Homo sapiens: one gene and its partners. The protein of the gene in region 6 interacts with the protein of the main gene of each other region in a biochemical or structural test. Each region holds a gene or a part of one and is shown on either strand. Other genes may lie near its edges. The genes, in order: ATP2A2, CLDN19, HDAC7, RASSF6, MTNR1A, MPP7 and SLCO1C1.

Region 1 (3,129 bases), on a different chromosome or scaffold from region 6:
CTGCACTATTGCTATTCCGTGCAAACAAAACTCAGCTTTTCCTGACTCAGTTCCTTGACTTAGTGGCCTTTACAAAAAAAGTTGAGTAGTGTGTGGCCTGCTGTCGCACAGCCCCTAGTTAGCTTCATGGTTTCTCAGCTTCAGACCCCTCCAGCCCACAGAGGAGCCCATGGAGGGACCCACTTCCCTTGGTCCAGACAGCTGGGAGTGGGTTAGGCCCACTGCTGTTTTGAGCAGGGCCACTTGCTCCATTTCACTGAAGGCTTTGCTGGGTGAAAACACTTCAGCATCTCCTCCTCAGGTCAACCCATAAAGACCAGGTCCAGCACCGTGGTCTTGGCACATCCCTGGCCTCAGGCCCTCACCTAACAGTGAGGCAGCAGCTGCCCAGCCCCGCAATGTGCCTGCTGTCAGGCAGCTCTTGCCTGAAACTTACTTCCACATTCTTTCCTGATGGGCAGGTGGCTGAAGGCCCAGCCATCAGTGTCGCTTGTTGCCACCCCGTGCCTCCCTTGGCCTCTCTGAGCTTTGCCCAGAAGACCAACAATCATACATACCCTAACTGGGACACCACTCTGCAGAATGCAGATGATCCATTCTGGAGGAAGCTGTCCCTTGAGCTCAGTGAGCTCCCAGGCAAGCAGGGCATCTGGCCGACTTCCCTCACAACAGCTGCTCCCACATCCCCTCGGACTGGAGCTTCAGCCCTGACTGAGGTGGGCAGACCTAAGACCTGAGACCACAAGATTAGCTCAGTGTCTACCAAGCATCTAGCCACTGTCCAGGGCCAGAGCATACCACGTCTGCAGTGCCTGTGAGCAGAGCCAGCAGTTGCCCTGTGACTGTAACCACCAAATTGTCCAAACACCCGCTGCAGTTAGCAAGAAGGGTAGGCTTCACCCTCCTTTACTGAGGAGAATGATGCGGAGGAGTTTCCTCTCCAGGGCTAGGCAAGGCAGGCGAGCAGCCAGAAGCCGGGTGCCCACAGGGCAGGGACAGGAAGGCTGTGCTGCTACTGGCTGCTCACTTCTCCATCAACCTCACCCTCTGCACCACTAACCAAGACCTTGTCCTCTTGCCTGTCTCGCTGCTTTCACAGCTGCAACGATTGTGTCTGCCTCATGGGGTTTTCCTCCAGAGCCTTTATTCTGTAGCCAGACGACACGAGGAGTCTGTGTCACTGAGCCAGTGCTTCTAGATGCTACCCTGTGTGGGCGGCACCTCAGGGACAGTAAATCAGAAATGCTGGTCTTGAAACCTTGAAAAGATCAAGCTGAATGTTCCTTTTCATCTGTCGCTGTTGATCTTCATCTATTTAAATAGGTATTCTAACGTTTCCTCTCTGTATTTCATGAAGCTGATTTCCTCTCTCTTTCCTTTTCAGCAATACTGGAGTAACCGCTTCCTAAACCATTTTGCAGAAATGTAAGGGTGTTCGGTTGCGTGCATGTGCGTTTTTAGCAACACATCTACCAACCCTGTGCATGACTGATGTTGGGGAAAAAGAAAAGTAAAAAACTTCCCAACTCACTTTGTGTTATGTGGAGGAAATGTGTATTACCAATGGGGTTGTTAGCTTTTAAATCAAAATACTGATTACAGATGTACAATTTAGCTTAATCAGAAAGCCTCTCCAGAGAAGTTTGGTTTCTTTGCTGCAAGAGGAATGAGGCTCTGTAACCTTATCTAAGAACTTGGAAGCCGTCAGCCAAGTCGCCACATTTCTCTGCAAAATGTCATAGCTTATATAAATGTACAGTATTCAATTGTAATGCATGCCTTCGGTTGTAAGTAGCCAGATCCCTCTCCAGTGACATTGGAACATGCTACTTTTTAATTGGCCCTGTACAGTTTGCTTATTTATAAATTCATTAAAAACACTACAGGTGTTGAATGGTTAAAATGTAGGCCTCCAGTTCATTTTCAGTTATTTTCTGAGTGTGCAGACAGCTATTTCGCACTGTATTAAATGTAACTTATTTAATGAAATCAGAAGCAGTAGACAGATGTTGGTGCAATACAAATATTGTGATGCATTTATCTTAATAAAATGCTAAATGTCAATTTATCACTGCGCATGTTTGACTTTAGACTGTAAATAGAGATCAGTTTGTTTCTTTCTGTGCTGGTAACAATGAGCGTCGCACAGACATGGTTTCAGGTAAATAAATCTATTCTATGATAAATTCTCAGTGTGGTGGTGACTGTTCTGTGGGAGGGGGACTGATGGGCACCAAGGGCCTCCACTCCGCACCCGGGCCTGCCCCTCTACAGGGAAGCAGGGGAGGCTCAGTCTGGGCAGGGTGGCCATGTGACTAGAGGGGACAGGAACCTCTTGGACTCGACTTCACAGTAGACAGGCTGACTGGCAGCAGGTCCGCCCATGTGAAGCCCACCCTGGCTCCCTACCCTTTAAGGATGGGGGAAGCTGAGTGTGTGTTACCAGTGGGGTCTTAAACACACAAGGCCTCACTCGTCAGTGTGGTGAAGAAAGCCAAGACTCCGCGCTCTCCATTGTTAGCAGCCTGGAAAGATCTGGAGACTAGCAATGGAGAGATGTTTCTTAGGCTGTTCAGATCCAAAACTTCCACATTCCCCGTTGTTGATAGGTATGGGATGGAGAGGTGAACAGAACTGAAGCAGCTGTTGGAATTCATTTGCTGGTTACTTTAGTGCTTATTTGGCAGTGATGGGTTTGGGATTGGGTTTTTGGTTTTGCACATTCCCTAAGATGATTCTTTATCACTTTAAAAAATACCAGGATACAAGGATAGCTGGATGATTCTATAAATCTAATTTTTAAAACTATCAGTTCTGGGTAGGCACGGTGGCTCACGCCTGCAATCCCAGCACTTTGGGAGGCCGAGGCAGGCAGATCACAAGGTAGGAGATCGAGACCATCCTGGCTAACACGATGAAACCCCGTCTCTACTAAAAAAAATTGCCGGGTGCGGTGGCTCACGCCTGTAATCCCAGCACTTTGGGAGGCCGAGGCGGGCGAATCATGAGGTCAGGAGATTGAGACCATCCTGGCTAACATGGTGAAACCCCGTCTCCACTAAAAATTCAAAAAATTAGCCGGGCGTGGTGGTGGGTGCCTATAGTCCCAGCTACTCAGGAGGCTGAGGC
Region 2 (5,153 bases), on a different chromosome or scaffold from region 6:
CTGGGCTCCTGACCCAGGTCCCCCTGAAACCAGAATGACCCCTGGATCTTCCCTACAGAGAGAGCGCCTGCAGATGGCGGGGAAAAGGGGCCAAGGCCCAGCGTGGAGAGAAGGAGGACTTTGCCTTTGGAGGAGCATATGCGGAGCAGCTACCCAGCACCAGGCCCCTGCCCTCCCCAGACATCGCTTACTTTAACGGACCACCACAACTCCATGAAGCAAACCTCCCATTTAGAGTGAGGACCCTGAGGCACCACAGTCATTCAGGTCACCCCTGGGGAGCATCTTGTCACTGCCCGCAGCCCCCTTCAATCTGGACCTGGTGCCTCCCTCAAAAAGGGAGGAGTGTGGGAGAGAGACCACAGGGGCCAGCACCACACAGTTTCAAGCGGAAAGCCCTTCCTGCTGTTTCCTGGCTGGGGGTCTATTACCTCCCTCTGCCGTGGTCTCCTTACTGTTAGGAGGCCTGCTGCCTGCAACAGTGGCCCACATGCTTAAATTAATGCACTGGTCACAGGGTGCCCATTGCGGCCCCAGTAGGATGGAGGAGGCTCCCCTCAATCCTACTGTCTTGTCATTGTGGTAGAAGAATCTGAGCTCAGGACTTACTTCTCTGCCACTGTCCTAGACCCCATTTGGTCTTGGGACCCACAGGTCGTCCAGGAAGCAGGTCTGTGTGTGCTCGGATCCACGTGGCTCTGACCCTCCCAGCACAGAGAGCCTGAGGGTCCCAGTGTGCACCACCACAGGTCAAGCAGTGCCCACCCTTGACCCTCAGATGGCAGACCACTCCCCCATCTCTGGCCAGAGCTGCAGGCCATACCAGAGGCCTACGCCCTGGGCGGGCACACAGGGCTGCCATTGTCTGCTCAGCGCCTGGCACCCTCTCGTTTGCATAGCCACGTGAAGAATGCAAGAGCGGGCTGGGGACTTGTCCCTTCAGAGGGGGGTTGGGGCTGTGGGGGAGGAAGCCAGCAGGGGTCTGCAGCAGGACCCTGCCTTCCCCCAGTGCAGTCCAGGAAGGGTGGGTGGGCTGTTGGGGACGGAGGGGGCGGCGGGGGGCTGGCAGGAGTGGAAGCAGGGTTGTGACATTCCTTCTGCACCCACGCTGCAGTGGGGCCCACTTGAACGTGAGGGGATTGCTAATGAGGTGGAAGAGAGTTAAACATTCCCCTACTCCTGAAGACCAAGAGAGACTGGGAGAGAGAAGAGGGAGGTGGGGGTGCTCGGAGCGGGCAGCCTGAACCCCGGGAATGTGCAGAGGCCACTGCTCCGCGCCAGGCTGCTCTAGAGTTGGGGGCCAGGGCCCAGTGTTCCAGTCCCAGCAGGAGCTACTAAGCCAGCCAGCAAGGGGATTAAGGGGCTGAGCAATCCGCCTTCCTTCAGGCTGATGCCAGAAGGTTGGGGCTGTCTCCCCAGCTCCCCACCAGGCCCCTTGCTGGCCGGCAGCCAGCGCTGGCCCAGCCTCGATAGGGCCCCTTTTCTGTCCCCCTCAGATCTCAAAAAGACCCCACAGTACATATTTCCTGGTCTGGCCTCCCTGATTTTTGGCACACACAGCTCCCAGGTACCCATGACCCCTCTTCCCAACACCCCACCGCTAGCTCAGCCTCCCCACATCCAGCTTCAGAGCCCCTGCCAAAAAGTTATCCTTGACATCTAACTCTAGTTTTACCCGCTGCAAACTGGCATTCCTTTCCCTTCTGTCCTAAAGTCAAAGGGCAGAAAACCCCAAGGGTTAGATCAGCCTTGCAAGAGCAAAGTCCATCCTCCCAGGGCTGGTGTTTGGGTTAGGGATTATCCGAATTTTAGGACACCCGAATCAGGTTCCTAAAGGGGTTTCCCTGTGGGGAAAGGCCCAGAGGGCAGCTGGGTCATTCCTCTCAGCCCCTCCCTTCCCTATCCCTGCGGAACGGGGCGGGGCAGGGACACCACCTGGGCCATGGGCCGGCCCTCCGCCCCCAGGGGGCTGGGCATGAGCTTTGCTGGGGACCCTGCTCTGGCTTAGGCGGCTGCTGTGGGCGGGCCCTGGCCTTTTCCAGCCCCTGGGCCTCCCCCTGCATTCTGGAGTCCAGAGCCACTGCCTTTGCTCCAGCCGCTGCCGCCGCACCACCTCTCCTTCTCTGCCTCTGACCCTCCTTCTCGCTGCTCCCCCTGCCCAGCTGCTCCTCCCACCTGGCCATGACCAAAGCCCCTGCTGGCACCCTGGCCCAGCTCTGAGTCCTGGGACCCTCGGTCCTCTCTCCTGGGCCATGGCCAACTCAGGCCTCCAGCTCCTGGGCTACTTCTTGGCCCTGGGTGGCTGGGTGGGCATCATTGCTAGCACAGCCCTGCCACAGTGGAAGCAGTCTTCCTACGCAGGCGACGCCATCATCACTGCCGTGGGCCTCTATGAAGGGCTCTGGATGTCCTGCGCCTCCCAGAGCACTGGGCAAGTGCAGTGCAAGCTCTACGACTCGCTGCTCGCCCTGGACGGTAGGCCCCAGGCCGGCGGGGTGGGAGATGGGAGGTGGGAACAGCAGGGGAGTCTGGAGCAAGTTTTCCTCACAGTCTGCTATCTGCGCTGGGCTCCAACCTCCAGCCTCCGCTCTACAATTCCCCCACTACTGCCCTGTGCCCATTGACGGTCCAGGCCAGCCTGCTGCCCTGTGGGAGGGGAGGGCTCTAGGGTCTGGCGGCTGTGGGTCCAGATTCCTGCTCTGTCACTATAACTTTGAACTAGTCACCAAACCTCTTCCCATTGTGATGTTCTCATCTCTAAAGGGGAATACTAATACCTGTGGCACTCTGAAAGACTCAGTTAAGACCCTTCATCCACTTCTCCCCACAGTCAGTAGACAGACACACACTGTATGATGCACACCTGCTCCCTAGTCCTGCTCCCAGGCCTGTGTGCCAGCATATGGGTGCATGCACATGCATGCAAACACGCATGCACACGCACACACGTGCACATGCATGCACAGACAGGTGTGTCTGCATGCAGTCCCTCTCCTTCTGGGGTGTGGAGATGAGCCTGACAGGCACCGCCGAAGTTCTAACTCTGGGGTGGAGGTGATCCACCTGCAATCTGCCCAGGAGCCCCCAGGGACAATCTGCTCCCCATGGGAGCTGGGAGCAGAGCGGCCTTCAACCAGCCCCATTGTGCCAGTTCAGGCAGGTCAGTTCAGGCAGGTCATCTAGCCTCGCTGAGGGACCCAGGTCTCCTGAGCACCCCCCAGGGCCCAGGATGGACCCATGCACCCGTGAAGAGGCAAGCTTCCAGCTGCCATGGGCAGAGGGGAAAGTGACTGTTGTCTGAATGGCTGCTGGGGAGGGGTTGCTGCGGGGCTCAGGCTGAGTTGAGCTGGGCCTCAGATACCCCCAGCTCTTCCACCTACCAAACCTGAGGGGACCCTGGAGCTGCCCTCAGCTGCTTGGGAGGATGGGCCAAGCCCAAGAGGGAGTCCCCAGGCCAGAAAGCAACAGCAGAGTGAATCATACTACCGGAAAAGCCTGCAAGGGCGAGTGGAGAATGGCGTTGACAGTGAAGGGGACTCTCACCCCCACACCCTGTCCTCATGCCCGGGCTGTCACTCCTCACTATCCTGCACCTGCCAGAAGGTGGTCTGACCCCCCAGGCCAGCTCCTGCTCAAGCCCCTCTCAAGCTGGGCTCCTTCCACCGACCCCAGGCACCGACCCAACCCCCATCCCCGCCAGCCCGACTCAGTGTCATCCCGCCCACCCTAGGTCACATCCAATCAGCGCGGGCCCTGATGGTGGTGGCCGTGCTCCTGGGCTTCGTGGCCATGGTCCTCAGCGTAGTTGGCATGAAGTGTACGCGGGTGGGAGACAGCAACCCCATTGCCAAGGGCCGTGTTGCCATCGCCGGGGGAGCCCTCTTCATCCTGGCAGGTGAGTGCCCCTCACTCCTGCACAATCACAACCATGGCAGGCAGCCCCAGCCCCAGTGGCCTCGGGGGGCCAGAGCAGAGCTGAGCGCCCCTCTGCTTTGTCTTTAGGCCTCTGCACTTTGACTGCTGTCTCGTGGTATGCCACCCTGGTGACCCAGGAGTTCTTCAACCCAAGCACACCTGTCAATGCCAGGTGGGTGCCAGGGCTTGGGTCTTTTGCTTTACCTCCTCTGGGGCCACTGACCTTTGTCCACTGGATCACCTGGCGGGGGAAGTGGGGACAGGATCCAGCTGCTGTCCAAGAAGCTTTAAAGGGGGGCGCCAGGAGGAGTGTGGTGGGGCCCTCCATAGGGGCGGGAGGCCTGTGATGGGCACCCAGGTGCAGCAAGGACTCTCTAAGGACCTAAGTGCCCTGGCTCTGGGTTTCAATCCCAGCTCTGGCTGGGTGCAGTGGCTCACGCCTGTAATCCCAGCACTTTGGGAAGCCAAGATGGGTGGATCACCTGAGGTCAGGAGTTCAAGACCAGCCTGGCCAACATGGTGAAACCCCGTCTCTATTAAAAATACAAAAAATATCTGGGCATGGTGGCGGGCGCCTGTAATCTCAGCTACTCGGGAGGCAGAGGCAGGAGAATAGCTTGAACCCGGGAGGCAAAAGTTGCAATGAGCCGAGATTGCGCCACTGCACTCCAGTCTGGGTGACAGAGTGAGATTTTGTCTCAAAAAAATCAAACGATCAATCAATCCCAGCTTTGCATGCACTGTGTCACCTGGGCAAGTTACTTAATCTTTCTGTGCCTAGTTTCCTCCTCTGTGAAATGGAGCTAGAACCTGAGCACCAGTTCACACATGGTTGTCAGGATCCAGCAGGATGCAGGTGAGGGTGTGGCACCGTGCCCGGGCCCTGGACAGTACCCAGCAAGCCTGAGCTGTTTTCATTTCTGCTGGTGGCAGCAGGGCTGAGATGACTTCCTGCAGGAGGCAGCAGTTATTCTGGGCCAGGAAGAAACTTGAGAATAAGGGCAGATCGTGGAGGGCCTTGCAACCACAGGAAGATTTTGTTCCTCATTTGGGTGGAGGCAGCGGCAGTCCTTCTGGCTGTGATGTGCAGAATGGTGGGGAGGGAGTGACACCAGGAAGGCGGCTGTCCCAAAGGTCTGAGCAGAGAGTTTGGGGCAACAGGGAGGGAGCAGTGGAAAGCAGGCTGATATTCAGGAGATAACCAGGACTTGTAAGACTGTGGGCATGGGAACTGAAGG
Region 3 (4,455 bases), on a different chromosome or scaffold from region 6:
CAACTTCTGCTTAGAAATGTCTCTTACACAGCTGTCAGTGCAGAAGGGACATAGCTTAGCAGTTAAACGCAAGCACTCTAGAGCTAACCCGCCTGGGTTCAAATCCATCTCATGACTTACGAATGACTGTGTGTGAGTTACTTAATCTCTCTGTGCTCACTTTCATCTGTAAAGTGGGTTATAGTCAGGATTAAATCCATCATGTGTAAAACCATCAGTGTCTGGATGTGATTAGTGGTGTACTGATGTTATCTGCTATTATTCTTATCATCACTACCTGTACAGGAAATGCAGAAATTACTAGATCTGCCAAAAGAAGCCAATAGAGGTCAAAAGACAACACTCAAATGACAGCTCCTACTCGTTGCAGGGGTTTGCGATGGCTGAATGCGTTCCCACACGCCATCCCCTCTAGGCCTCCCAACTGTGATGTGGGTGTTATCTTCACCCAAATTTTACACAAGGGGAAACTGAGGCTCAGAGAGGCTACTGCAGAACTAAGACATGAAGCCGCATCTCTAACATCAGGCTCAGGGCTTTTCCCCCAGGGCTCTCGAATTGGAGGGTGCTACGGACAGGCACCTACCCAGTCTACAATGAGGATCTTGCTGGCCTTGCTCTGCTGTTGCAGCTGCCGGCAGGCGATGGCCACTGAGTTGAAGAAGCAGAAGCCCCTGGAAGGAGAGACAGGTCCTGCCAGCCCATTCTCTCCACATGCCCTCACCTCCCCAGGCCCCTGGGTTGGCCCAGCCTGAGAAAGCTCAGGGAAGAAGAGAGAATGTCCCTGAAGGAAGTTCCTGGGGGCTTGCCCCCCACCTCATCCCACCCAGGTCTTCCCTTAGCCTTACATGGCTGTTGAATGATCTGCATGGTGTCCTGGGGGCCGCACCACAGCGAAACCATTCTGGAAAAAGAAAGAATGCTTGTCAATCAACAGACAGCTCTGACCCACAGCTGCATGAACGTACCCCAAGAGTTCCAATCTCAACCTGGTTCCCAGAGCCCTCAATTTCCCCTCCAAAACCCTGTAGCAATCTCTAAGAGGAATGCGATGCCTGGGGTTCTGGGCCTGGATTCCCCACTACCCCACTCTGCTTCCTCCTTTGTGGTGTGTCCACCTTCAACCCAAACCTCCTACCTTTAGCTCACGAGAAGCCACTTTGAAGGCGAGGTCAGTGACACTGCCAGCGGCCCAGCGGGCTGCATTGGAGGAATGAAGCTCATTCCAGATGGTGTCAGTGTCCACCTGCGGGAGCCAGAGTCAGGGCCCGCATCATCCAAGGCTTCACACAGGAGCCAGGGCCCAAGGGGGTGGTCCCCACCCCACGGCCAGGACCCCAGGGGCAGGGAGCTGGGCAGACAGTGCTGCCTCCCCAGTGCCCCACCGCCCAAAGGCAAGGCCTCCTGTGTCCCCCAATCCCAGCATGACTTTTTCCCAGCTTAAGTCCCAGCACCAGCCCATTATCTGGCCAGCACTCTGCTGGCAGCATCACGCCTGCCTCCCCGGTCAGGGGAGGGGGCATGGCGTTACCTGGGCGGGACTTGGGGTTTGGGCCGGGAGGGGGTTTTAAGCCCCAGCTGACTCTGCTCAGGCCCTGCGGGACGGTCGGAGCTGGAGGGGCCGTCTGCACCACTGTCTTCCACTCAGGGCCCCTAGCCCAGGCTGGGAGGCCCCCCAAACCCAGTCCCTGGGCCTCAAGGCTAGGGAGGGGCCGGGGGGCATGATGGGGAGATGGGGAGGGCGAGGCAGACCAAGAGAGGCGAGGAAGGCAGAGAGAGTCGCAAGAGGCTGGAGAAAGAGAGAGAGAGAGAAAGACAGAGAGGGAGAGGAGGGAGGAGAAAACAGAAGCAACAACAGTTGGAAAAACCAGAAAGTGGCAAGAAATGGGAAGTTGTGAATAGGGCACTGACTGGCTCCCAAAGTCCCCCACCAGCTACAGCTCCCACTTTCCCTCCGGAATGAGGCCTCCATCCCCTGCCTCTACACACCTTGCTTGAGAAACTACTGCAGGGATAGTGTTAGGCGAGGAGAGCTGAGCCGGAGGGAGCGGGAAGCTCCCTTCACAAAGGGGTGAGGACTTAGGAAGCAAAGCTCGCGAGCGGAGTTTGGGGCTATGTCCCGGAGTGGGGAGTGCTGGGATCGCCAAGGACACCGGAAGCACCACCGTGATGTCACACCAGGCAGCCCAAGGTCTGGGGACCAGGCTGAGGTACCCCAACTTGCCACTTAAGAGCAGACAGAGCAGCCTGGCGGCCAATGCCCAGTCATGGGGGTCTTTGAAGGGAGAGATGATCCTAAGCCCCAGCCTTGGCCCTGCTCCTGAAACCTCACTCAACATCTACCAGACACCTTCTAGGGGAAGGCTTAGGCTGGACTCCGCATTCGGGGGAGACTGTGGGTCCGAGACACGCCTGTCCAAAAGGAGCTTCCTGCTGCAGGGGGCACCTCAGGAAGTCCCTGGCTCACCCTGTCTGGCAGAACCACAACAAGCAGAGGTTCTGCAGGGGCTGGGCCTGGGAGAACCACAGGGAGGAGAGCTGAGAGCCCTGGCAACGCCCCCCTGAGACCCCTGGGCACACTTACCCCAACCCCACCACAGGGCAGCATCACAAACATCCGCTGTGCCAGGAGCCCTGCGGGGAGAGGCCCAGCCCACGTCAGCGTGAATACTCTCAGCCTTTGGCCCAACAGGGAGCAGGGAGCCCAGAGAGCAGGGCCGGGTGAGTATTGGGGGAGAGAAATATGGAAGGGAGAGGTGGAGGTGGGCTGAGGAGGGGCTTGGCAGCAAGCTGGAGTAGGGACGTCCAGGGTGCAGGAGGAGGCTGGCTGGGCGGGCAGAGCCGAGACAGGAGTGCATGGGAGCTGGGTGAGGTAAGCTGGCATGGGGAGACAGGGCCACTAGGCCATTACCTGCCAGCTTCCCGTTGTCCAGTTTGAGGCGGCTGAGCGGGTTGGTGCCGTAGAGGAGCACGTGCCGCTCAGAGTGGACCGACTGCAGCTCTTCCAGGGAGGCCTTCCGGCCTCGGAGACACTGAAAAGGGGACCACAGAGCTCTGAGCTCATGCTCGCCCCTTCCCTCCCATCACCACCACCCCATGTGCCCCTCATCTCTCATGGGCCCCAGGGCCCCCCACCCCTCCCCTCCCATGACTCCTCCCTCCACCCATTCCTCGGGCCCCACCCGCGCCTCCTCACCTCACACTGGCTCCGGAGCCCCCGCTCCTGCAGCCGGGACCAGATGCTCTGGATGCGGCCGGCGTGCTCCGGGTGCCTGCTGTTGTCACCGCAGGAGCACTGGTGCTTCAGCATGACCGAGTCATAGATCAGCCCTGCAGGAGCAAGGGTCAGAGCGGGGACCCAGGGAGTCCTCACGCCCCATGGCCTTGGCTGCAGAGAACACGCCAGCACCGCCACAGCAGGCACCCACATGGAGCCGGGCGGGTACACACCCCTCACACCCACACAGGCCTGCATTTCATCCTGCCCCTACCCCAGCCCCAGCCCCTCACACCTGTCCACACACGCCCAGACACTTCCCCAGGTGGCAGCAGCCAACACATCAACACAGCTCCAGCCAACATGGCTGCCACAGAGCCACGGCCTTCCCACATGCGGACACGACTGCTGGGTGGCCCAGGACTCGAGGGCCCAGCACCAGGCCCTCAAGTGCTCAGAGCAAAGCATGAGGCCTAACGTACAGCATCTCACACACGTGTCATGAACCCAGAGAGGCTACCAAGGGGCAGCAGGAGGGAAAAGAATTCCTAGGAAACCCCCAAACCGGGAGCTAAGAAGCCCACGATGACACTGGACCATGTGATAGACAAATCCAGCTTTGGAGAAGTGACTATTTCAGTCTGACCCGTGGGAAGTCTTCAGAGGAGGGTCCTGCTCATTGCGGGTGGGAGGGTCAATTTCTGTGCGTCTAGGACACCAACGACTCTCAAAATGCTCACACCATGTGACCCAGGAATGCTACTTCTTTAGAGTGAACCTTGGGAAATAATCCCAAGCATGAGGAAAGATTTATGCATAAGGAAATTCAAATAAGCTATAATCTAAATGTCTAACTGATAAGGGATCCCTCAGTAAAAATGAAATACATTAATGAAATACTATGAGACTCTCAGTTTTAAAGACTAATTATGCCAAGAAGGATTCATAATATGTTAACTAAGTAAAGCAGGATACAAAACGTAGTTCATGTGTTCATGGCATCTGTACATGTACATATGGCCAGAACAAAGCCTGGACTGAAATACAGCAGAATTTCAGAGGGTTTACTTCTGGGTGGTGGGATACTGGTTGGTGATTTTTCTTTTCTTCTTAGGTTTTTCTGTACTCTTCAAAATGTCTAAAATACTTCTGAGCTCTTTTTACAAGCAGAGCAACAGTAATAAATATCATTTTTTAAAAGGGCTGAGTGCATTGGCAGGAGACTGGAATTCTTATCC
Region 4 (4,455 bases), on a different chromosome or scaffold from region 6:
TACCTTTTAAAACACTTTCTTCTTGATGCTTTTGAGACAAACCATGAATAACAATCACCTCACTCTATTTTCCTGCTATCTCACAGGCCTCAACACTAGTCTCCTTTGCTGATTCCTCCTTTGTATGATCACTAAATACTGGCTTGTTTGAGTGTCCATTCTCAGCCATCCTTTCTTCTCTATCTATACATTCTTCCAGGTAATCGAATCTGTCTCCATCCCATAATCTCTGTTGAGCTCCAGACGCATGTCACCACCTACCTAATCTCTACTTAGATGTGTACCAGGCATCTCGATATCTACATGGCTGAAAAAGAACCACTGACTTTCTCCCATGCTCTAAAATTTCCTCCTCCACAATTCTTTCCCATCTAGGCATCAAAACTAATATTTAGTCTCATTTTTTCCCTCTTTCATCATAAGCCAAATTCAATCCAAAAGTAAGTCCTATTCACTGTACCACTAACATATTCCAAATTCGAAAGCTTTGATTTCCACTGCTACTACCCTAAGCCAAGCCACCATCATCTTTTTCCTGGATTATTGCGTCAGCCTACTAGAGGGCCTCCCTCTGTTGTGGTCTGAATGTTTGTGTCCCCACAAAACCTAGATGTTGAAACTTAACCCCCAATGCAATAGTATTAACAGGTGAGGACTTTAGGAGGTGATTAGTTCATGATGGTGGAGACTTCATGAATGTGGTTAGTGCCCTTATAAAAGAGACCCCAGAAGCTGCCTGGACCCTTCCACCATGTCAGAGCATAGCAAAAAGACCATCTAAGAACCAGACAGCTTGCTTCCCTCACCAGACACTGGGGATATTTGGAACTGAAGAACCACTGATAGCAGCTTCTTATAATTACAAAGTGAAAATTGGCAGTGATGGACTGAAAAATCATTGCAGTAGCTTTCCAACTGGCTCACTCTTTATTTGCATTCATAAGAAATATCAAAGATATCATTAAAGAGGGCAAATAATTGCAATGTAGTTATAGTGACACACTGTTGATCTATGCTGAGGTAACTCATAGCCAGCTTCAGAAGACTTCAGAAGATGTGATGAAAGGGTTTCCAAGGCTCTTATATTATTTTCTGACTTTAGGAAGGAAGAAAGTTGAATATAATTTAATGTAAGAAAATAAAAACAGGATAAAATTTTCATTCATAGGCAGCACATAATATTTGAGTAGGAAATAATATTATTCATGTCTGATCTAAAAATTGGGTAAATAAAATATTCAAACAGTTTAAATACCTGAAAGGTAAGAACATGCTTTGGTAAAAGTCCCATTGTTAGTATTAACAGTGAAGTGAAATACAAAAGTTAGCCGGGTGTGGTGGAACACACTTTTAATCCCAGCTACCTGGGAGGCTGAGGCCCGAGAATCACTTAAACCTGGGAGATGGAGGTTGCAGTGAGCCAAGATTGTGTCCCTGCACTCCAGCCTGGGTGATAGAGTGTGACTCTGTCTCAAAAAAAAAAAAAAAAAAAGAGCAAAACAAATAAACAAACAAAAACAATGAAGTGAGGCATAGATCTATGAATTCAAATAGTTTTTCATCCTCATCTTCCCATTCCCATTCACCATGATTCATAGCAAACTAAAACCTGCTAGGGCCCTTGTGAAAATCTCCTAAATTATAAAGACTTGGTAGATATAAGCATCTGAGCAAATTTTCTCAAGGACTTAAGAGGAGAATAACAGAGAAGTCATGAATAGCAACGAGGGAGAGAATTTATGAAGAAAGAAAAAATTACAGTTCTAGAAGCCTGGAGGTCTTACTTGGGATGTTCAGTAATTTTGGTAGAACATAATAAACTACAACTTGAGGAGGAAGATGGTTGTTACAAATCTATGTAGGCCCTGGGGCCAGAGATTATTGACTTAGATTGTGTGTAAAATAAGATCATTATTTAATAAGTTTGGTTATTTACTTTTTCATTTTGTCCAGAAACAATGAAGCTGGAGAAACAGGGAATTAGATAGGTCAGCAATTAAGTCCTGGAGAAATCAACAGCACTAGAAGTATAGGAGAGGTAGAATTGGTCTGAACAAGCCAATGAGATCTGGATGGAGCCTGAGGAGGCAGTGTTGGGCAGCATTAGCGTTCCAGCAATGCTGGAACGTGGTTCACCTCCCCCTGCTCTGCATTCCTGCCTAGAGGTGGGCTTGCCTGGACTTACCAGTTGCCTTGTGACCAGAATGAGGCCAGAGGACAGGAAGTGAATTCTAGTACAAATTAAATCAAATGGGTCAGTCATTTAAAGTAACTTCCTGTTATCCAACCATGAGTTAATTAAATGGTTACATATCTAAAAGTGGAAAATTGGGTTCACTCGTTTGTAAATTCAACAAATATTTCACGAGTTCCTTCTCTGCACCTGCTACCGTGCTAGGCACAGAAAGTATAGCCTGTATCTATATCTATAGCCTCTTATTTCTGAGGCCACAAGGTGCACAAAGTGTCATAATGCTAATGATTTTACAAAGAACTAATATATATACATATATCTATATCTATCTATCTATCTATCTATCTATCTATCTATCTATCTATCTATACATATATATACAGGTGCTAACTTCCCTGTATTTCCCAGCCAAAGACAATTTCTCTTGCTTCTGAAATTTCACAGGAAATTTTCTGTAGCTTTCTAATTACTTACTGCTTTCTCTCTCTAACCATATTTTATTTTACTTAATTTGATTACTAGGTCCTTTAGGACAGAATTATTGCTATTTCATTTTTGTGTCTTCTAAAGTGAGTGAATATATGCAGGCATATAGATAAAACATACACAAAATATTGAATACATCCAACATACAGAGAGGTATATTATAATATTAATGGTAAAATTAAGAGCTAAGAGATTATGTGTGATAATTATTTCTTTTTTTATTTTGTATGTACTGTCTAAATCATAGACAAGGAATATATGTTACATCTCTCTCACCCACGTCCCCAGTAAAAGCTACTTAAAAAAAGAACAGAAAGTATCACACTAGAATAGCAAGTGTGTATTTCAATTATGAGATAAGAGTATGTTAAGGGCTGTACACACGGAGAGTCTTTTTAATAAAATATTGTTTCAGCTTGAAGAAGCAATAGAAAGTTACAATTATGTATTCATCTCCAAAACGAAACTGTTTTCTCAAAGTTATGACCTGGAACCTTGGAGTAGAGAAGAGCAGAGTTATATGCAATTACATCACTTCAAGAAAATGAGACAAAGCATCTATAATTCCATCCAGTATCTAGTTCTCTCAAAAAAGGAAAAGAGTTAACAGAGTGATGGTTTCTGGGAAACATTTGGCTCCATACTTTTTCTTAAAATGTGCTTTATTTGCAGAGACAGTAAAGGTCAAGAGTTGGCATATATACAAACTATCACTTAATTAAGTAATATTGGTTGCAGTCAGTGATTGTTGGTTTTGAGATAGAAATAATGTATTATAATCATTGAATCTAAGAGAGGACTAAGCAGAATATGAATCAAACACACTTCTATGTGAGCATGCCACTGCCCTCAGTTCAAGTGGAATCTAATTGGAAATGCCAAAACTTTACTGTTCTATTGCATATTTACATGGTACTAATGCCATGCATTTTATTCTGCTCAAGGTGCCCTCAGGGAGATAAAGAAAGCAGAAACGGTCAGAGAAGCAAATTTGTATTAAGGCACTTAAGGCATCTTGCCACCACTGGGTCTGGGAGGCGCTGCTCAGTCTGCCGACAGCATCTTCTGGAATTACTGGTGTGGTGGAACTCAAAAATTTTCTGCTTCACCTGAGCTTCCCAGTAGAAATTCTTAGGCTGACGTCACAAAGATCACGACTCATTTTTCCTGTTTGTATATTTGCTGCAAAAGAATCGACACTCTCTCCTCTTAAGCTCCTTTACTAGGCTCTAGGTGATGATGAAGTTTTCCTTTAAGTTAACATCCTTATTACTTAAATAGGAGACACTTCATGTTCTACTCCTGAAAGCAGTGGTATTAGTTAAGTTTGGTTGTTGAGATTATGTTATGAAAGTGATGAAATCACTATAATTTATCATTTTAAACATACAAATTAATTTTTGCAACAGAATAACTCTCTAACTGTAATGTGAAAGGAAAATATTCAGAATTCCTTTCTCAGAGGTTTTGTTTTCAAATGGCCTATACTTGAATATTTTAAAAATCTAAGCTTTTATATGAAGCCCATGTAACTCTAGTAACCGTGAATTCCCCACCTACATTGCAATCAATGAATCTATATAAGCAAATGGACTGTCAGCATTGGGTTTCTATCTCAGTTAAAAGTAAAGGATCCTTCTTATTTTAGGAAATTAAAACAAGAATCAGGTATAGAACTTTTAATTACATGCTTAAAAGACTTGTTACATACATGTTACACTATTTTGAATATAACTGGAAAAGTTAATTTTTTCGTAATCATTGCTGGGTCTCTC
Region 5 (4,455 bases), on a different chromosome or scaffold from region 6:
TGACAGGAAAATATGTTAACACTACAAAAGTATAAAATAATATTCTCATAAAAGTAACTTTTTAAAAGTTAAAACTTTGACTCTATTTTTATGTACTTACAGAGTATTTAAAGACCTGTAAGTGTGAAATATTGCATTCTGCCTTAAAAATAAAAATATGTTTACACATCAGAACTCTACACCAAGAATACTAACTAACAAAAGGAATTTATTCTGCTGCTGGGAATGTTATATTTAATTCATAATGCACTTTAAGTATACAGCAAGCCATTTAGTCCTTACAATATTAGTATTGTCCCAAATTAACAAGTGAGGAAACTGAGCAAATTAGGTCACTTGCCCTATGTCACACGCATGAGATGGCAAAGCCCGGGTTTTACTCCAGGCATCTGGTTCCAGAGGCCATGTGTTTCAGAGGGACACATCCCAAAAAAAATGACCTATAATAGCACTAATCTTCCATAGATAAGGAATGCTTAATCTATAAAGATATATATATATATATATATATATATATATATATATACACTATATATGTAAAACAATCTTTTAAAAAAAGTACATGGTAAAAGACTATATGATACCTACACAGACATATACACAAATGAGAACAGTTGGAAGTATTCCAAATTCAGAGGGAACAACGAAAGGAGCTAAAAAAGATAAGTAAATAATAAAAGGAAAAAATGGAATGAAAACTAACTGGCAAAAAATCTTAAAAGTAAAAATTGCAATTTAAACCACATCTTAAAATAAAAATGAGTGAACCAGAATTTTCTCTTGAAACAAAATCGTGTCCTAAGCTCCTATAGATGGATATAGGAGGCATCCAGCAAGCATTTAAATAAAGGAGGAGGGAATGAATGCAGGAAGGATGAAAGCACAATATCCCTTCCAAGAACATATTCCTAAATATGTTCAGAAAATCATCAAAGAGGAAATACTAATTACTGATTACACATTTTTATAATCCACCACTTAATAACTATTTGAGAAAACAAGTATAAATGTAAGTTAGCAGGCTAGTTCTCCAGCAGGCGTTTCTTCGAAAGACCTGAAGCCAGTGTGTTCTTCACTAATAGTTATGCCGTGTCTCTACCACTGATCAGTTTCTTTGAAATTCTCTCACTAATTCCGTCTCAATCTGCTGCTATTTCACATGTGAACTAGTTTTCACATCTCCCAGTTATTACATTGTTCTCTCCTCGTAAGATAACAACTTTAAAAAATTCTCATGATTGCTTTAAGCTCCAGCTACCATCTACCAGCCAACTTTCGCATTTCTCTTGAAAAAGTTTTCTGCTGTATAAATATGCTCCTATTTTCATACTTTTGTACCCCAAGTCTTCTCTTTGTTTGAAAATAAGAAGAACACACATTTCTAAAGTGCCTCGATAGAAAGTAATCTCTTTGAAAGTCGGAGCCGCGTTTGACCCACGCTTAGAACAGGACCTTGAATTTTGACAAACCTGCAAAAATTTACCAACCATTTACATTCTGCCTTATACTCTAGGAATGCAGTAAGTATTTATCCAGGTAAATGTTCAGCTCAATAAGCACCAAAACTACTCAGTATCAAAGCAAGTGAGCACGCTTTTAAACCGTGCACCCTAACAACTCAAATTCACCTCCATTAACTTAAATAATATTCAGCACCGTGCAAATGCATTTTCTCTCCCGTCTCTTCTTCTGAGACTGATTCCTTCAATGGCATTGCCGAAAGTGTATACAGCTCTGTAGAAAGACAAGTGTTTGAGTACTTCATCCAGAGAATCCAGCAGTTTATTTCTTATCTGCAGCATTATTTAACTGCACTAAAAATCACAGAGATATCACATACAGCGCTCAGGTTCCTGGTCACCTTGATTATTTGAGAGGGGCAGAAGTGAGGCTGCTGATCATCTTCATGAAGAGGCAGAGATGGCACCAATGATACCGTGCAGAGTTCTGTGCATTCATAAAAACGCTTCTTTAACAACAATCCACTAATTGCCTTTTTGGTACTAGAAAACTCTAAAGGAGTATGTGAGTTTCCTTTTTAGAAGAAAGGGTATTTCTGTCAGCGAGGCAACTTACAAATATGTAGAAAAAAGGGAAAGCTTAAGGCACCTTGTAAAGATCTTACCATTCATTTCAGTTATTCTGTTGATTATTTTTAAAAGGTGCTAAGGAAGAATGGGCAGAATGAGCTCCAAAGACTCTGTGGAGATTTAAAGTGACTTCCAAGGCATGATAGTTTTCAGTGTAGATGCTTTTTAAAACAGAACCATCAAATGGCAGTAAATATTAATAGAAGGAGGTCTAATCTAGGACTATTTTATCCTAGGTTAACTCCCAAAATTGCCAAGAGAAAAATGATGCTGAAGGCAAGCAAAAGTAAGCTCTATCTTATCTGTGATTAATTTAACACTGAAAATTCCTGCCAGAAATACTTTCTTACGAAATGAATAGCTGGAGGAACGAAAGATCAGACAAATTCAATCATGTATTTGAGAGTCTGAAACTACTGTCATAAGATTTACAGGGGATTCTGGGAATTACTTTGACATATTTGTAAAAACTTAGGGTTCATAACAATGTACTATACAAACCAAGATAGAAAGTCATAGAAAACTGAACAACAGCTAAGAATACAAGGGGGAAAAATCAATAAAATGTCTCTAAAGTAAAAAATTGCCTTGAATCAGTAATTTCAAATATTGTGGAAAGCAACAGGAGGGAAACTACAGCAGCGCCAACAAGAAACCTCTCGGCTTGGAGATCGCATGAAGTGGGGTTAGCTTGAAATCATTTTCCAAGTCTGTACAGTACAAGTTACGTCGTAGGTTTTTGAATGGTAGCCTGCTTGCCCAAGGAAGCTACTGTAGCTTCTAGAGCTGATTCACTTAAAATTAGAGAACAGCTGAATATCGAAATAATCAGTCTTTAAATCTCAGGCCTTCTTGCTGCAGAGAGATAATGGTTGTTACAAAAGGGAAAACTCAGACAATGGAGATTTTGTGTATTTTGCATAATGTCACAAATGGGAATTAGATTCTAAACCTTCCATTTCTGGTTGATTTCACTGTTTTCCAGTTCATATTGTCTACTTGTTTTTTTTTTTAAACATACACTTAAAAAATAAAAACAATCTAAAAAGAACTAATCACCAGATGCGTACTAGCATTAACATCATAATACTATTATTTGTACCTCATAATGATAGATAGGTGGGTAGGTAGGTGGATGGATGGATAGATGGATGGATGGACGGACGATGGGTGGCTGGATGGATGAATGGGTGGTTGGACGTATAGGTGGGTGGATGGGTAGGTAAGTGGACTGATAGGCAGAATCTAAGTTTATCCTTCTAGTATCCCTGTAAGAAAAGTGGCATCTTAAACAGCCGTGGTACATCCGAGACTTGAACCAGATCTCTGAGGCCCAAAGTCCACATTCACTCCGTACTCTATGCATCCTCTCTGAGTGGTAATGCAGAATGAATAAATATAACATTCTATAGAGACCTGAAAGCAACAAGTGCAAGAGAGGCTTCACACAGAGTCAGCCATCCAGCCATAGAGCCATTCTGGGAAACCATTTTTAAAAACATATACTGACAAGTTTACCCTACTGTGCACACAGATTAAATAATAATAATAATAAACTGCTTTTGACAGGTATCTTTCTAAAATGTATCATATCCCTGTCTTCTTAAGTAGAACACACCACTCATGATGACATCTCTCGCTGATGAATCAGGTGATGATAATACATATGTTGCTGCACTGTGCTGCTTTCAGGAGCCGTGAATGGTGAGCAGGGCTGTTCACATCTTCACAATGTAAGCACAAAAGGTTGTGCTTGTTCTGTTTCTCAGATCTGCATTTAATGAGTCTATTTCAACCCATACTGCTTGCTATTATGTGCTATTTCTTTAAATGTGTCAATCTTCCTCCTAATTTCCTGCTCATAATCTACAGGGACCTAGACACCAGTATCACAGTTTTGTGGCACTCTAAGTTAGAACAAATCCGCTGTAGGTGAGAGCCTGTCATTTTTGCTAATTTCCATTTATTGGCTGTACTCTACCTCAGTTAGATTGCCAGATAATTGAATTTTGAATAGGCAAGATAGTATTGTATTCTTGCCTGATATTTTGTAAAATAAGTTTTATTTAAGTATAATGTACATATAGAAAAATGCACGAATCATAGGTCTATAGTGCAATGATTTCCAGCAAACAGAGCACGCCCTTGTTAGGTGTACCCAGAAAACAAACAAGCCAACACAGTATTACGTGTTTTATCCTTTTCAAAGTATTCTCATATGCGCCACTTCACTACAGTCATTGCAACACTCTTATGAGGCTAAGCGGTTGGGTATTACCTGCAATTCAACAAATGTGGAAAATGAAGTTTGGTATTTAGCTTCACTGATTTCTGAAATCAGAAGGAGCACAGCAAGGATCTAATC
Region 6 (4,455 bases):
GGTGCAGACATGGCAGTTGCAATGGGGCTTTCATTCAGTACATTTCCTGCAAAATGCCCTTCAGTTCTAGTGGGGGGTTATTTGCTAGGATATATACAGAACCAAAGTCAAAGACTTGGAACCAAAATGTCCATCGTTAAAAATTATAGACACTGTTACTAATACATAACACATAAGAATGCATTATGCATGTAACAATGTGATGTATTTTTTAAAAATACAGAATATGTAGAAACATCTAAGAGTTGCTTTACTTGACAAAAACTGAATATAAATAAGAGTTACAAACACAGGTCTTGGAGCTTCCTCCACTTCTCTTTCTAATAATATTATGGGCTTTTCTTTTTCTCCACCAAAGATGTCTCCAATTATATTTAAATGCTTTTGCCATCTCAGAAAAGCCACATATATGCCAAAAGTGAGTTGACTTCATATTATTTCATACTGAAATGCTCACATGAGGTGCTGTAGATGACATGGGTCAGAAGGGTATTGAATAGCTCATTGTTTACTTACATGAGGCTGAACATCCAACAAACAAACTTTGTTTTTAGCAAGGACAGACCGAACTGAGTCTATACTTGTGCCGTAGTAGTTGTTTTTATATTCTCCATATTCAATAAACCTGTAAAAAATTAAATGCATTGGAATCATTTGTGAATTTAAAACAATTATAGGTGGCAAGATAAAATTCATAGGTAAAAGACGTTTCTGCTGAACACGTAATTTTTTTAAACTGTGTTTAATAATATAAACAGAGCCAAGTATTTCAAAATGTCAGTTTTTAAAAAATCTTTTATTATACATTTTCAAATCAGTAACACTTGCTTAAATTACACTTAAGCAGAAAAAAAGTACTTTAGTCTAGTAGGGCTCTAATGTTTTCCATCACCCCCTTTTTCTTCAGAACTAATGCAATGCAATAAAATGGTGAATAAGCCAAACAATAGAAACTACTGGAATTTCATTGCACGCTACGGAGTAACCCAGCCCAGCTTCAGAACTAGAGGCGCTGGGTGGTGGCTAATGGAGCCAGGGCAGTCGATCATGTGCTATAAAAACACAATCACTGCGCCAAACACGAAAAAAGCATTTCGATGTTTTAATAAAATCCCACAATCCTGCATTAAAACACATATTGCTTCTGATAGCCTAAAATATTTGTGCCTCAGCAGATGGAAAACCTGGGCAGGGGGCACTGGGGTGGGCTTGGAGCTAGCTAGAGAAGACGGTACCAGCAAGTTAATTATCATCATTTCAATTTTTTGAAGAGCCAATGAGAGAATGAGATGCAGGTGTGTGAAGCAGACGCTGGACCTAGTGATATACTACATAGTTGTTGGTTTTTGAAGTAAAATTCTATCCAAATTACATGTTAAGATTCAATTAGTGGGCTGGAAGGAGGTCAGAATAAGACACTTGCAACCTTCCCTCATTCTGCAAAGCAGTGTCTACACATTTTATAGAAATGAAGCAAATCCAGGTTACTAAAAAATTAGAGGTGAAGATTAACAATAATTACCAACCAAATTATTACCTTTTCATCTGTTTCAAATATTATTATGATAATTAAAATACACTTCAAATGGAGAACTCTCAGTTGTCTAAAACGGGACAGGCATGTGCTTATAAAAAACAGTCACATGAAAATTCTCAAAAATGTCCACATACTTGTTATTTTGTACATCTGTCTCAAACAAATGCTTGGAAATGAAAATGTATTCAACACCATCACTCTCCTGGCTTCTTCTTGCTCTGGTGGTATCTATGATTTAATGAAAAGGAGTTTAGAAAAGCCCACATCAGCCACCTTAAGGAAAATACTAAAAAAGAAATCAAGGGTATTTAATTAGTTTTTTCAACAGGATTTAAAAATGTATTTAAAAAGCAAATTAGCTAATAAAATACAGTAAGCTGTTATAAATCCAGATTTTCCACTGTTATTAAAATTATATTGATTTGAAGATGGGTTAAAAAGTTAATTGCATTGTATGTCTCTGCTATTATTTGCTATTTTGAAGGCTCTCTAACCTGATACAAGAGTGCTATTTAAACTCCTGAGGAAAAAAACCTTTTTTTTTTTTTTGCAAATAATATGCTTATTATCTTTATTGATCTTCATTCATTAAAGCAAATCTATTAACCACTAAGTTGTTAGATAAACTCTGAAACTGTTTGACTCTCTTCTTCTCATGGGACATAGTGGGTATGCCATCAAAGTTTTGTTTTACCAGCCAAGTGAAGCCAAATACTTCTGTGTGCTACTCATTCCTCCTTTGCAAAGTCATAAATAGCATCATCTTAGAATACTATTGAACTTCTAACCTTTCAGTAATCTTGCCTAATTATTTATTAACGAACTAAAATGGAGCAGAAAATATAGGATTCATTAAAACGACAACATGAACAAAGCCCAAGGCACTCCAGTGCTGACATGGCAAATGTAAACCCACTACAGGCCATCCTTCCTGCAGATCCCAACTAAAAACTATGGATGCCAAGAAACTACCCGAACACTTTGAAAATAAGTAAAGCAGGTAGACTGTAGAGGGGAGTCAAACTGCACGGGGAGGAGTTTAACTCTATTTTCCTCTTAGCTTTGCCCCAAGGGTGGGAATCCTTCGCAGAGCAGCATGGTAGAATCTGCAGCAAAATGCCAAGAGAAGCCCTAACGTTCTGGTGCAAAGAACTTGGGACGGGGGGTAGAAAAAGTCCTTGTGGGCTGTAAAGTGTGGAGGAAATCCAGGAGAGAAGAAAGCTGGAGAAGAAAATACTTCACTTCTGTGTATGAGTCAACAATAGTCTAAGAATCCTCTCTGTGCTACACACATGTAGTTCAAACTCAAACCAGCACGGCAAAGGCCTTATGAACTGAGAGTGGAATGTACAGGTTTCAGCCTAACCCCTGAAAAAGAGTATCGCAAAACATATCTAAGCCAATGAAGAAAAGGCTTAAAGAACTGAGCTGAGATCTGAACCATGCACACAAGTCTTAGACTAATCCTTGCATCCTAACAGACCCAAATCAATATAACAAAGGTGAGATAAAAGAAGCTGGCAGCTAAAATAAAAACATCAACATTCTCCCGAATATGGTAACAAGACCTAGTGTTAATACAACATTATATTCACAATGTCCAAAATGCAATCTGAAATTATTCAACATGAAAGAACCAAAAACAAAAAAAAACAAAACAAAACAAAAAAAACACCAATTTTCAAGGGGAAAGATAACAGATAGCAACCCTGAATGACCTGGAAGTTAGATTAGACATAAGTCTTTCAAACAGGTACCATAACTAAGCTTGAAAAGGTAAGAGAAAATATACTTGAATTGAACAAAAATATAAATTCTTAGCAGAAGAACAGAAACTATAAAGAAAAAAACAAATAGAAATTGTAGAAATGAAAAATAAAAATATCCAACAGAAACAAATCACTAGATGGGCACAATAACAGAATGACAGAAAGAAAAGCCAGTGAACTTGAAGACAGAACAATAAAATTATATAATCTAAACAACAACAACAACAACAAGATTTAAAAAATATAGATAGAACTCCAGGGACCTATGAGAAAACACATATGTCATAGGAGTACTAGAAGGAGAGGAAAAAAGAGATTGGGGCAGAAAAATATGTTTGAAGAAATAAAGGCCCCAAACTTCTATAATTTGGTGAAATACATAAACTTACCAATTTCAGCAGCTCAGCAAATCCCAAACAGGATACACTCAGAAGGGAAAAATTATGCCTAGACACATTATAATCAAACTATTAAAAGCCAAAGATAAATAAAAAATCTCAAAGCAGCTAGGAAAAAACACTGAACACATAAGTGAATAATGATTTAAACTGTCACAGATTTATTATAAATCATAAAAATAAGAAATCAATGAAATAATATCTTTAAAGCACTAAAGGAAAATACTTAATCAAAATGTGTTTCAAGAATAAAGGCAAAATAAAGACCTCCTCAGATGAAGAGAAACTAACAGAATTCACAGCCGACTGTTCAAAAAAAATATTCAAGGAAGTTTTTTAGGCTGAAGATAAATGATAAAAAGGAAACTTTTATATTCAGGAATGAGGAAAGAACAAATAATTGTGTAAATGTAAACGTCTACTTTTTTCCTGTTAAGTTCATTAAGATATATATGACTATTTTAAAGAAAAGTTATAATATTGTCTGATAGTTTTCAATGTATGCAAATGTAATACATTTGACACCTAAAACAAAAAGATTAGGCTGGGGGAAAGGGTCTTAAATGGCTGCCAGGTTTCTGTATTTTATGTGAAATGACACCAAGTTAAACTGCAAGCAGGTCATGAATGGTTAGATATGCATACATTAATATTCAGAGCAACCAGTAAAAAGCTAATCCAGAGATACCACCAGAGAGTCAACAAGTAGATTAAAATGGAAATTAAAAAACACTAAAATAATCCAAAAGAA
Region 7 (4,455 bases), on a different chromosome or scaffold from region 6:
CAGACAATGGGAACTACTGGAGAGGGAAAGGAAGGAGAAGAGAAAGACTGAAAAATTACCCATTGGGTACTATGCTCACTACCTGGGTGACAGGTTCAGTCATACCCTAAACCTCAGCATTATGCAATATACCTTTGTAACAAACCTGCACTGTACACATACTCCCTATTCCAAAATAAAACTTGAAAAATATAAATAAATAATAAATAAAAGACAAAAGAAAAAATGAAAATCTAGCTGCCTATCCAAATTTCTTTCATTAAAAATCTTTTTAAAATTCCACAAACTTTAAAAAGCAAAATCATTTCACAAATGCTTCCTAGCTCTTGGATTTAAATTTTATTGTCATTTATTTTCCTTTAATATTTTTCCACAAAGTTAAAGTAATTAACTTGAGAAAAAATGCTATCTCTAAACTTTAGAAAGAATGTGGCTAACATTTAAAAACATGTACAGGAAGACTAAGTTGTCGTTGTAACAGTTGGCCCTTGAACATGTCGGGAAATTTCTGTTTATTTACCCCTCCATGGTATGTCAAATGCCTTCTCTCAAAGAAGCAAAGGAAATGTGCTTCTTTGTATCTATCTCATATTTTATTGCAGGAAGATCATTATCCCATAGCCCAAGTTAAAAAAAAAAAATAAGAAAAAGAGAGGTTGAATAGAAGAAGAAAAGAAAGAGAGAAATAATATTTATTGAACGACAGATATACGCATTTACTATGCATTTTATCTGTATACTTTCATCTTTATTTCAACCTAGTGATATATTTATTTTCACCATCGTACAAATAATCAAAGTAAGGGTGAGAGGATATTGAATAATTGGCCCACTTACGCTTAGTCGGCTGCACCCCATACTTACTAATGTGAAACCAATATGATCTCAGGAACAATCCTAGCTATAACGATGTAAAATTGTTAGATACTATTACTTATCTCTCACAAAAGTATTTGAATTATCTGTAGATATGACATGTCAGAAACTTTGAAGAATAGAGTTTTAGGTAAATGCAAATTAAACCACCATGAAATACCACAACCATACCGCATAAGAATGGTTACAGTGAAAAGAATTGACAATTCCAAGTGTTGATAAGCATGTGGGGCAACTGGAATGCTCTTACGTTTCTAATAGGAGTATAAATTTGCACAACTTCCGTGTGTTTTGGCAATATCTACTCTATTTAAACACATATTCTCCCTCTGACTTAGCAACTGCACTTAGCAGTATAATATAATATATATTATTATATTATCTATTATAGTATTATAAATAACTATTAGTTAAAAGAAAACAACACAAATGTCCATTGCACTCCAGGGTATAACCATGAAAAATGAGCATAGTGGCCCACCAATGTACATGTGGAATGTTGTTTTCTGCTTTTAACTATTATAAATAATTTTATAATAGCATTATTATTATATATTATAGTATACATAATATACTATATATAATACCAGATGTTACTATATTATTATAGTATTACCATATATCATATATTATACTATATTATCTGTACTATATGTAATATACTATAAATTTTAATATAGCATATAATACTATCTTATAGTGTAATATGCTATAATATATTATAAATAATATAATATATATTATATTAATACATATTAAAATACATATTTTTATTTGTATTTTTTCTTTCTTTAACTATAATTATTTAAAATACTATTATAAATAATTATATGATTTATAATATAAATAATAATTATAAAAATTATTAATATAAAAAGTATTTTATATATTATATATGATAGTTATATATCATGTTGTATATATTATTTTATATAATTTATTATAATATATATAATATATAATTAATACATATTATATACATATTAATATATGTTAGATATTTTAAATATATGTTTTATAATGTAATTATTTATACTATCATAAATTTATAATATTACCTATAAATATACATATAAATACATAATGATTTATAATGCTATTATAAATAATTGTATGTATAATTATTTTCATAGTATATGAAATTATATATTTATAATATATATTATTATATTATCTATTATAGTATTATAAATAACTATTAGTTGAAAGCAGAAAACAACACAAATGTCCATGAACTATAAAATGAATAAACTGTGGTTTATTTATGTAATAAGATATGACATAGCATGAAAAAGAATGTACCACTGCTATGCACAATATAAAATAATCTCATAGATTTCACTTCAGTTGAAAAAAGCTAGACACAAAAGAGTATATAATATACTATTTAATTTATATGAAGTTCAAAAACAGGCAAGGCTGGTCTATGATAATATAGTTTAGTATAGTTATTAGCTTTGGGGAAAAGTTTTGACTGATAGGAGAGTTAAGCTTTCTGGGGAACTAAAATATTCTGTATGTTCTGGATGCTGGATGTGACACACACACACACACACACACACACATATATATATATATATATATATATATATATATATATATATACACACACACACACACACATTATATATATCAAAATTATCCATCTGAACTGTTTAAGGTCTGTAGACTTAACTGTTGATAAGTTATATCTCAATGTAGACATAAAAGTGAAATAAAATAAAGTCTCTCTTAAACTTTAAATCCTCATCTATTCATGTTAAAATCAATATAAAGCATTGATTAGCATGCATGGGGTGTTGGAGAAAAAAGCCACAAAATATTTCTTTAGGTCAGCCAATAAGTAATAAAATTAATTTAAATCAATTGATGTTAAAAGTAAAAATGTTCAGTAACGTAACCTTAACATCAAGAATTTTGGAGAAAAATCTTTTAAAACTGTCAATTATATTAGCATGTGCTATATGCCCATTACCCAAGATTATCATAGAAAAATTATATCTCCTAAAATACATTTGGCTGTTTTTTTCTCCTTCCAGGTCTCTTTCAGAGGTAGAAATATAGACTGATTTTTACAATACTAGAGAAAATTATTTTATACCACTGGAGTCTCCTATCATAAAGGAATATGTCCCAAGAAACAAATATGTTATGCCTTGAAACAGTAACATTAAATGACATGTTCATGGATTAAAGAAACGAATCTTGATTTTTAAAATATCTAGTTGCTTCCACAGTGGTGGTCATGTATTTGTAAGTTCTGGTTTCTCTTCTTTCATTTCTTCATACTTTTCTATCTTATTATTGACTGTGTTGCTAGAAACACAACCCTTTGAACTAACTCAGTTGCCAGGAGTCAGAAAAGTTTTTTGACCGCGAAAATACAAGTTTTGTTTTGGAATGAACATCTTTTAACCTATCTCATTGTGCATTTTATATAATCCTAGAAACTGTTCATGTAAAATGGCCACTGTTTTGAGGTTTCGGCTGCACTTAAAAGACAAATATCCAGTATTATTAACAAACTCCTCATAAAATGCATGTTTCATCTCTATGATATCACTTCAAGAACTGCTTGCTCTCTGGGTTACTTACCCACAGATGTGAATAATTCTTGCTACAACATTCTTGTTACTTTTTGAGCTCATCTAAAATGTCATAAATTACCTAAATCTTGGAAGAATCTTCTCGAAGATTCCCGAGTTAATCAGGTACCTCTAAGACAGTCCCTCTGAGAAAGCATGAAAGGCAGATGAGCATACCGATCACAAAGTTGGCCCTGGAGGATGACTGTCCATACTGCTGCTCAATGTACTTTGGTTTGTACGTCACCATGCCGAACAGAGAATTGAACTGAACAGTGCTTGTACATAAATATAGGAAGTATACTGGGTTTCCAAAAAGATTCTTCAGTGATGGAAGAAAATCTGTAAAACAAAAATAACATAGACTAATTAAAGTTGGTGTCACGCATGGAAGAAGAAGTAGCCGTGCTGGCAGGACTTACAGGGCTGGGGCCCATTGTCACACAGTTTGGGAGTAGTCACAGTGTGGTACACACATACACTATGTATATAGTAAGCCACTGGCATGCGTCAAGCCTGCGATCTGGCCAGGTTCGAATCCAGACATAGGCACTCATTTCTACAGACATGCAGTATAGATTATATTAAAGGTAGGAGTCAGACAAGAACAGATTCCTCTAACTGATGTGGGCAAAAGACGAAAAGGATGAGAATACTCCCTCATCATCTAGCTGGGAGCCACAGGCAGGACATAAAGACCTTCACTTTTCTTGTCTCTATTCCTCAAACTTAGCTTGTGGTCAAAGAGAAAGAAATATGAGAGTTATCTCCATTTAATATATGAATTTTAGTGTTAGAAATGAGCATTGGTGTTCTCCCTTTTTCCTATTATGTAGCCTACCAATTAGACATGTGAAGAATTTCTATAAATGTAAATATTGCTTGAAGGGACAAGAAGAGGGGGACCAATATCATGAGGGGCTGCTCATTTCCATGAAGGGGGTTCATTAGAACACTGGGTTTTTGCCTACAGAACACTCACCCCTTTGATCAT

What was found.
Region 1: the proteins of MPP7 (region 6) and ATP2A2 interact in a test that uses a peptide from one of them, tested with the Homo sapiens proteins (one large-scale study listed by IntAct).
Region 2: the proteins of MPP7 (region 6) and CLDN19 interact in a test that uses a peptide from one of them, tested with the Homo sapiens proteins (one large-scale study listed by IntAct).
Region 3: the proteins of MPP7 (region 6) and HDAC7 interact in a test that uses a peptide from one of them, tested with the Homo sapiens proteins (one large-scale study listed by IntAct).
Region 4: the proteins of MPP7 (region 6) and RASSF6 interact in a test that uses a peptide from one of them, tested with the Homo sapiens proteins (one large-scale study listed by IntAct).
Region 5: the proteins of MPP7 (region 6) and MTNR1A interact in a test that uses a peptide from one of them, tested with the Homo sapiens proteins (one large-scale study listed by IntAct).
Region 7: the proteins of MPP7 (region 6) and SLCO1C1 interact in a test that uses a peptide from one of them, tested with the Homo sapiens proteins (one large-scale study listed by IntAct).

The regions. Positions count from the first base shown.
Region 1 is NC_000012.12:110,348,908-110,352,036, forward strand, and holds the end of ATP2A2 (sarcoplasmic/endoplasmic reticulum calcium ATPase 2), read left to right. Parts: 3' UTR 1-1,384; coding exon of another isoform or gene 1,385-1,398; 3' UTR 1,399-2,186; downstream 2,187-3,129.
Region 2 is NC_000001.11:42,737,163-42,742,315, reverse strand, and holds the start of CLDN19 (claudin-19), read left to right. Parts: upstream 1-2,079; 5' UTR 2,080-2,252; coding exon 2,253-2,475; intron 2,476-3,730; coding exon 3,731-3,895; intron 3,896-4,002; coding exon 4,003-4,087; intron 4,088-5,153. UniProt on the Homo sapiens protein: Forms paracellular channels: coassembles with CLDN16 into tight junction strands with cation-selective channels through the strands, conveying epithelial permeability in a process known as paracellular tight junction permeability.
Region 3 is NC_000012.12:47,788,675-47,793,129, forward strand, and holds part of HDAC7 (histone deacetylase 7), read right to left. Parts: intron 3,996-4,455; coding exon of another isoform or gene 3,985-3,995; exon of another isoform or gene 3,331-3,984; coding exon 3,197-3,330; intron 3,033-3,196; coding exon 2,912-3,032; intron 2,635-2,911; coding exon 2,585-2,634; intron 1,247-2,584; coding exon 1,139-1,246; intron 905-1,138; coding exon 849-904; intron 675-848; coding exon 587-674; intron 1-586. UniProt on the Homo sapiens protein: Responsible for the deacetylation of lysine residues on the N-terminal part of the core histones (H2A, H2B, H3 and H4).
Region 4 is NC_000004.12:73,613,706-73,618,160, forward strand, and holds part of RASSF6 (ras association domain-containing protein 6), read right to left. Parts: intron 2,232-4,455; coding exon of another isoform or gene 2,186-2,231; intron 1-2,185.
Region 5 is NC_000004.12:186,548,322-186,552,776, forward strand, and holds part of MTNR1A (melatonin receptor type 1A), read right to left. Parts: intron 1-4,455.
Region 6 is NC_000010.11:28,057,979-28,062,433, forward strand, and holds part of MPP7 (MAGUK p55 subfamily member 7), read right to left. Parts: intron 1,766-4,455; coding exon 1,672-1,765; exon of another isoform or gene 1,538-1,671; intron 626-1,537; coding exon 517-625; intron 1-516. UniProt on the Homo sapiens protein: Acts as an important adapter that promotes epithelial cell polarity and tight junction formation via its interaction with DLG1. Involved in the assembly of protein complexes at sites of cell-cell contact.
Region 7 is NC_000012.12:20,722,438-20,726,892, reverse strand, and holds part of SLCO1C1 (solute carrier organic anion transporter family member 1C1), read right to left. Parts: intron 3,804-4,455; coding exon 3,639-3,803; intron 1-3,638. UniProt on the Homo sapiens protein: Mediates the Na(+)-independent high affinity transport of organic anions such as the thyroid hormones L-thyroxine (T4), L-thyroxine sulfate (T4S), and 3,3',5'-triiodo-L-thyronine (reverse T3, rT3) at the plasma membrane.